Linked DNA regions of Homo sapiens. The protein of the gene in region 1 interacts with the protein of each later gene in a biochemical or structural test. Each region holds a gene or a part of one and is shown on either strand. Other genes may lie near its edges.

Region 1 (3,750 bases):
GGTAGAGATCTCCACTTTGCCGGCTCTGGGGCCAGTGCGGGGTCTGCCCCGAGCTCCTCTGCAGCCATACCAGCCGACCGGCGGGGGACACACGGCGCCTCGGCCCGACTCGGAGGCCCTTCCCGTCGGCGCCGGGGCAGCGCGCGCCCGGTGACTCACCCCCGCCGCCCTCTCCCCACCCCTGCTCCCCGCCCCGCCGGCCCGCGCGGCCTCCCAGCCCCCACCCCAGGCCACCTGCCCCGCCACCCGTCCAGTCTCCCCTCTCGCCCCGCCCCCTCATCTCAGGCCGCTCCTCCCGGGATTTTTCCACCCTGGGGTAGGGGTGCGGTGGGCCAGGGGTCAGGAGATGGCGGGCGGGGAGCGCCGCCACGTGCCCGGGTGCGGCCCCGCCCGAGCCCGCCAGTGACTCAGCCGCGCGGCTGTCGAGGAACACGGACTCGAGGGGCGTCGGGGACTGTGGGATTCGGCGTGGACGCCAGGGATGCGCGCCGCGCTCGGGAGGAGAGAGAAAACCAACCCCCTTTCCGCCCGGGCCGCGCTCGGTGACCCCTTGCCCCTAGCCCAGGCTCCGGAAGCCGCCCAGCCCTCGGCGGCGGGTCGGAGGAGGCGGTTTCACCGCGGCCGCCGCACGGCCGTCCCGCCCGTCCCGCCCTCCCCAGGTGGCTGTGAGCGCACATCTGACTGCGAAGAAACCCAAAGGGCCCGAAGTGGGACTTTCCCCTTCTTGAAAAAGTTGCCACTCTTGCAACTTGAGTATTCTTCCGCCTCGAAAAATAGCCCCGCCTGTTAAGCCCCGCGGGTGTCCGCGCTCTGTGACCTCTGCAGACACAGGCCAAGGGGCACGGCCGGTGATCCAGACATTGCCTGCCTGGGGCGGGCGGGGCTGGGATGTGGGGTGAGGCCCTGGGCTAGAGCCGATCCAGAGAAGGGACAATCCTCTAGACTGAGAATGGGCCCTGGTGAACCCAACCTGCACGACCCGAGAAGACGCTGGGGACAGAAGTGGCCCCGGTGGGTGCCTTCAGCTATGAGAGCGACTAGAGGATTTGGCCAAACTCTTCTTTGCTTTCTTATTACTTGAATAAGTAAAATCAAGGGTGGTGAGGCGGCAGCGCGCACGGCTTCGCCCCCGCCCCTTCCGCCAGGCGGGAGACACGTCCCCAGCCCGCCTTCCTTTCCCGCAGGGTCCACACGGGTCGGGCCGGGCGCGCTCCCGTGCAGCCGGCTCCGGCCCCGACCGCCCCATGCACTCCCGGCCCCGGCGCAGGCGCAGGCGCGGGCACACGCGCCGCCGCCCGCCGGTCCTTCCCTTCGGCGGAGGTGGGGGAAGGAGGAGTCATCCCGTTTAACCCTGGGCTCCCCGAACTCTCCTTAATTTGCTAAATTTGCAGCTTGCTAATTCCTCCTGCTTTCTCCTTCCTTCCTTCTTCTGGCTCACTCCCTGCCCCGATACCAAAGTCTGGTTTATATTCAGTGCAAATTGGAGCAAACCCTACCCTTCACCTCTCTCCCGCCACCCCCCATCCTTCTGCATTGCTTTCCATCGAACTCTGCAAATTTTGCAATAGGGGGAGGGATTTTTAAAATTGCATTTGCAAAGTTCGGTGTCTGGGCTGGCGAGTGGGGGAGGGAGGGAATGGGGAGTAGGCCCCGCCCCTACCGTCCTTTGCAAATAAAAATCTAGCGGGGCGGGGGGGGGGAGGAGCAGGAAGTGGCGGTGCGAGGGCTGCTGCACAGCGAGCGGAGCCGCGGTCCGGACGGCAGCGCGTGCCCCGAGCTCTCCGCCTCCCCCCGCCCGCCAGCCGAGGCAGCTCGAGCCCAGTCCGCGGCCCCAGCAGCAGCGCCGAGAGCAGCCCCAGTAGCAGCGCCATGGCCGGGTGGAACGCCTACATCGACAACCTCATGGCGGACGGGACCTGTCAGGACGCGGCCATCGTGGGCTACAAGGACTCGCCCTCCGTCTGGGCCGCCGTCCCCGGGAAAACGTTCGTCAACATCACGGTACTGCGAGGCCTGCGCGGTCCGGGGCACTGCTCCGGTTTGGACCCTGAGGGAGGGACTTGGGTGGGGGCGGGCGCGGTCTAGGGCGCGCAGCGAGAGGCCCTGACTGGGTGCTTGCCCTGGAAGCGGCGCGAATGGCGGCTGCACGTGAGTGGGTCCCTCAGTTGCCCGTAGGTCCTATGCCCCAGGCGGCGGCGCCCATCCCGCCCGCTACCCCGCTTTCCGCGACGGGGCGTTACATCCGGGGCACAGGGCGGGGAGGGGCGCGGCGCCCGGTGCGGCGGCCCACTTCCGCCTCTCCCAGGGCGGGGCGGGGACGCGCCTCAGTTTTTACTGGGGATTGGGATTGAGAGGGGACCCGGGGATCCTTGGACCCCCAGCTCCCCGTCCGGCTGCCAGCCCGCGTCCCTCTACCATTGTTTCTCCTGGTGCGGAAGGGAGCCCCAGGCGCGTGGTCTTGGTCCCTTGCCCACCCTCTGTGGGCTTCTGGCCCCTCCTAACTCCGTTAGAGAGGGCGAGGCCACCACACGCCCCCCCAGCTCAGCACGTTGGATTCAACATTCCTGCGAGGCCAATCCCGGAAGTCCCCTCGCCCTCCCTTCCCGCCATCCGGCGGGGCCTGGAGCAGGGGAACTTTGTGAGAAGTTCTGAGACAGCATAAGCGAAAGTATATTGGTTTACTACCGCTGCTCCCACCACCATCTCCCTGTCCACACTGCCCGGAAGTGGGGAGGGGGAGCGGAAGTTCAAAAGGGGGGGGAAGGGGGTTTCCGGGCGGGAGGGGACCGGATGTGGGGGCTTGGGGTGAAAGGGGGAGGGGGGAAAGGTTCCCGGGGTACCTAGACCCGAGAGCTGGCCTGCCGGGTCTGGCCCCTGTCCACCTTCAAAAGTTTTCCAACTTTCCCGGAAAGCCCCCAGGGGTCTGCTTCCTCATCTCAGAGCAGAGATACCTGGAGCTAAACTCTAGGTTACTTGGAGACCCAGGCGTCCGGGCCCTAACAGCTCCTGCAGAACCTTTGACCAAATAAGGGCAAAGTTGCTTCTCTTGCCTCGCCCGCCCCCCTCCCTTCCCCTCTCCGCTTCTGCTTTTCCTGAAGGAGAGTTCTGAGCATCCAAAGGCTCCTCACTTACCTCACTGACTCCCTTTATTTCCTGGGTTTACTTTCCCCATTAACACTGACATCTAAATCTCTAGAGGAGTATGTCATCCCTTCCTCCCTGGTTCCATATTCTAAGTTTCAGAATCATGATCTTTTTCTGCACTAACGTCCCACAGTCCTCAGAGTTTCTCACAGTTCATTGATGTGTACTGAGTATATAATTTATACTTAGCCCCCACGGCGGGGTGGTTCTCAGAAGTGGAAGACAGGTGGGTCTTTGGAGAACACGGTGGGAATCTTGGTGCACTGACTAACTTGATGGGCGCTTGGTTCCTCTTCCAGCCAGCTGAGGTGGGTGTCCTGGTTGGCAAAGACCGGTCAAGTTTTTACGTGAATGGGCTGACACTTGGGGGCCAGAAATGTTCGGTGATCCGGGACTCACTGCTGCAGGATGGGGAATTTAGCATGGATCTTCGTACCAAGAGCACCGGTGGGGCCCCCACCTTCAATGTCACTGTCACCAAGACTGACAAGAGTGAGTTCCTGAGTCTTACCCTTCCTTTAGCTCCAAGATCTCTAATGTACCGCCTTCTGGTAATCTTGAGGGTGCTTTTTTGTGTGATTCCCCAACATGAAGGGAGTCAGACCA
Region 2 (3,750 bases), on another chromosome or scaffold:
ACTGAGTTTTTTCCTACATATGGGGCCAGAGGCAGACACATGCAAATATTATTTTATTTAGTCCATAAAACAACCCCATGAGATAGGTGGTATTTCATCTTTGCGGTGAGGAAACAGGCTCAGAGAAGCTAGGTTGCTTGCCTGAGGTCACACAGCTACTGAGGGGTGTTGCTAGGATTGGGACAGGGGTCTGAATCTGCTCCAGTTTGAAGTAGTTATACACACAGGACACCATGGGAATGCTGAGATGCCACGGGGTTGATTGGATTGTTTGTGCATCCATAGTTGTGGTACCTGTAATCTTCACAGCCATTCTCTGAGTGGGTGTTGGATGGCACCTCTACAGAGGAGAGAACTTAGATCCAGAGTCACTTGAAGTTGACCCCACTTACAAAACCAGGGCTTTCCATATATGGCCGTAATTACTCTTTTTAGTGGAGGATCATAAGATATAGACCAAGCAGGATGAACATATTAGTAAGGCTCAAATACTACTGTTTTCACCCAATGCTGGACACCATTGGTGGGGCCTAGATGTGTGTTAGGCCCCATTGGTGTTTTTCCCAGTGTCTAGACTTTTGTTTTTGCATCAAAGCTAGTAATATTTCATCTCCCAGCATTTGAGGGTTTATTACTAATAAGCAACTTAGCAATGATGAGACCAAATGGCAAGTGCCTGCTGTGTACCTGGTACTATGTCCAGGTACTTTTGCACCTGGGGAGTGCAAAGGAATGAATTTAAAATGGGGATCTACCACAGCTGATGTCAGCAAAGGGAGAAATGTCTGTCTCGGGTCTCTGTTCATGTGTTACATAGGAGATCTCTACATTGCACTTGGTCATTAAGACCTCAGGCTTCTAGGAATCCATATCAGATTTGTCTTACAATAATAACAATGATAAATAAACATGTAAATAAAAAGTAAATAAAAAACATTAAGGGTTTATATATATATATATGTATCCGTATACACATATACATATATATATATATATATATATGTGTATATATATATATATATATATATATATATATATATGTATATACATATATATATATACACAAATCCTTAAGCCTAGTGGGCAGCAGAGAAAGGTCCATGGGCTTTGGAACAAAACAGGCCTGGGCTCAGATCTCCACCTTAGCTAGTCATGTGATTCTAGCTAAATTATTTACCTTTGTGATCTAGTAAAAACGTGAATAATTAGAATCTGCATTACAAGGTCATAGGCTGGCTTAAACTCTTTAACATATTTAAAAGCAGCTGATACTTTGTGCATAGTGGGTGAGTGACAAATAGTACAGGAAATTATTATATTCCACTATGGGGAGTTTTGTGGGGAGAAAGGTTCACAGAGTGGAAGAGAACAGTATATTGTGCCTGGAGTTGATAGAAATTCCACTAGAATGCCAGATCCTAGAACCTTTTCAACCAAGGTGTGCAACAGCTTTGCGCATTGTAATTCCCATAGTCCCTATTGTGGGATCCATGGTTCCAAGCCCAGTGCTCCCTGCCGTAAATGCCCTGTTGTATCAGATGGTTTTCTGTCTTAAGCAGAGCCCGTATCCCCATTGATAGAAGAGAAATAGCTTAGAGTTCCATGCAGAATTTGACAGACAAGTAGGGTATGTAGGCTTCAGTTGGTTCTACTTTCAGAGAGTTAAGATGGAATGAGGCAGCTCATGGCACTACAGGTCAGTTGCCTTCTCTCCAAAATGTTCACTCATGCATGTGGGCACTCATTGTATTTGAATAACAGCAACAGTGCCTCCCTCAGTTTGGAACCTCTAGTCCACTTGCTCACTCATGGTCCCTGCCTTAACCCCAGTCAAGTTCAAAGCCATAGGCATCATTTGTCCGACTGACATATTAGGGCATCTACCAGTCAAAGGGTGATTGTTGTAGATGACCTTTGGCCTTCTAGAGCAGGCTGCTTTCCACTTGACCTCTGCTGCTATTAGCAGACAAAGAGAGAGAATGGGAGAGAGAGTGTATTGGACTTCAGTCCCCATCATGTGCACTGCCTGGGGACATCCCAGCACACTCAGAGCACCACTGCCAAAGGGAACACTTCCCCTCTGTTGGCCAAGCCCATGGGTGGTCCAGGAGCAGCTGTCACATTTTGACTGCCAAGCATTTTGGAGTGGAAGTTGACCGAGGCATCTTCCTTCTCACTAGGGGCCTTGCGTGTGTTTTGGGGGTGAGGGGTTGGCTTCCTGCCTGGGCCTCTGTGGAGCTTCTCCTTTCTTGCCCAGCCTTCAGGACTTCAGTGTAGGCTCTGCAGCAACCCCATTGTCTGCTCAAGGAGGGACTGGAGAGATGGGATTTTCCCTCCTGCTACTGCACTGTTTGGAGCGATGGGAAGTGGAAAGAGCTCTCCCTCTCTGTCCAGACAGGCCAGTGGGGAGCTGCCTGGCAAGCTGCTCTCTAGCTGTGGGCTCTAGGCTGATCTCTTAATCCTTGGCAGGAAGGCAGAACTTGATACCCTGGAGAGGGAAGGACTGAAGCCCAGTTTATTCAGGTCCCAGAATATCCACACTCAGGAGGATGTGTGTTGGGGGTGAATTTGGGATCCCTAGAGTTCCAGATTTAGCCACTGTCTCAGTGTGTGGAAGTCAATTTGTGTGCTTTGGGATGTATTGTTTCTATGTCTGTTAACTTAAACACACAAGTTCAGGGAAGCGTCCATGACAGCTATAAATATCTTTTACTCTGGTGTCCCTTGGTGTTGCTTTTTCAATGACAAGTGAGATTTGTTTTACACTTGATATAACCCAGCAGCTGTGGCTGCCCTGCATGCCCTCTGGGTGCCCACAAGGCACTTCCCCTACAGAAGGGAATCTCCACCGGAGGCAGGCTTGGCATGCCCCACCTTCTGCATTTTAGCAGAAGGGCCTGGCATGATGAGAAAAGGGAAGGAGAAAGGGCCATGGGATCACCACTCACCAGGCTCCTCCCACCTCCAGGCAAGTCATCCTCACAACACCCTTCAAGGTAGACTTCTCCCAGATGAGGAAATTGGGAACAAGTGGGCTTATGGGAACCAGACAGAGATGTGATTAGGAAAAAGGTTTTCTACTTTGGAGAAGGCCTGCAGGGAACATTAGTAGGGTTTAGGAAATGCCACTCACAACATCAGACTCTGGGTCCTTGTAGCCCCGTGTTCCATCCTTGCTCAGCCCGGTGAGCAGAGCCTGGGAGGAGCCCCAGGGTTCCTTCCAGGCATCAGCTGCAACAGGTGAGATGCTGGCACTGAGCATCCTGGTTTCCCTTAGTAACCTACTGTAGATTTGTCATGTGTGCATTTTGCTAACCTTTTTAGAAGCTATTTATATCTCTAGCCCACACCGCATCACACGGGAATGCTGGTTTCCTCCTCTGCGTTGGGAAGGTGGATAGCCTTTGTTGACTCCAAAGCCTTTGCTGTGTTCGCTCCAAAGTCTGAATGCCCTGTGTTCCCCTCCTTGGGACTCTGATGTGGGTTTGGGTTATGCCAGCTTAGACTGTGGGCTGGCAGGCAGGGACTTTAGGGTGGGGGCAGTCCCCACCAGCTCTCGTTGGTCTACAATTATGCCTCATAATCGGGCACATAATCTGTGCCCCATCCCCATCCTGGACCTTTGATCTGTTTGGCTTCTCCACTTCCATCATGATTCTCCTGAGGTTTGGTGACATTCCCACGCTTTGAACGACAGCTTCCCCGCAGGTATCTCAAGCATGAGTGTTACAGGTGTGCTGAGATGCCAAG

Evidence for each region. The genes of interacting proteins can lie anywhere in the genome.
Region 2: the proteins of PFN1 (region 1) and RHOQ form a complex in vitro, tested with the Homo sapiens proteins (one study listed by BioGRID).

What each region holds. Positions count from the first base shown.
Region 1 is NC_000017.11:4,946,514-4,950,263, reverse strand, and holds the start of PFN1 (profilin-1), read left to right. Parts: upstream 1-1,733; 5' UTR 1,734-1,869; coding exon 1,870-2,001; intron 2,002-3,443; coding exon 3,444-3,636; coding exon of another isoform or gene 3,637-3,750. UniProt on the Homo sapiens protein: Binds to actin and affects the structure of the cytoskeleton. At high concentrations, profilin prevents the polymerization of actin, whereas it enhances it at low concentrations. By binding to PIP2, it inhibits the formation of IP3 and DG.
Region 2 is NC_000002.12:46,545,472-46,549,221, forward strand, and holds part of RHOQ (rho-related GTP-binding protein RhoQ), read left to right. Parts: intron 1-3,750. UniProt on the Homo sapiens protein: Plasma membrane-associated small GTPase which cycles between an active GTP-bound and an inactive GDP-bound state. In active state binds to a variety of effector proteins to regulate cellular responses. Involved in epithelial cell polarization processes.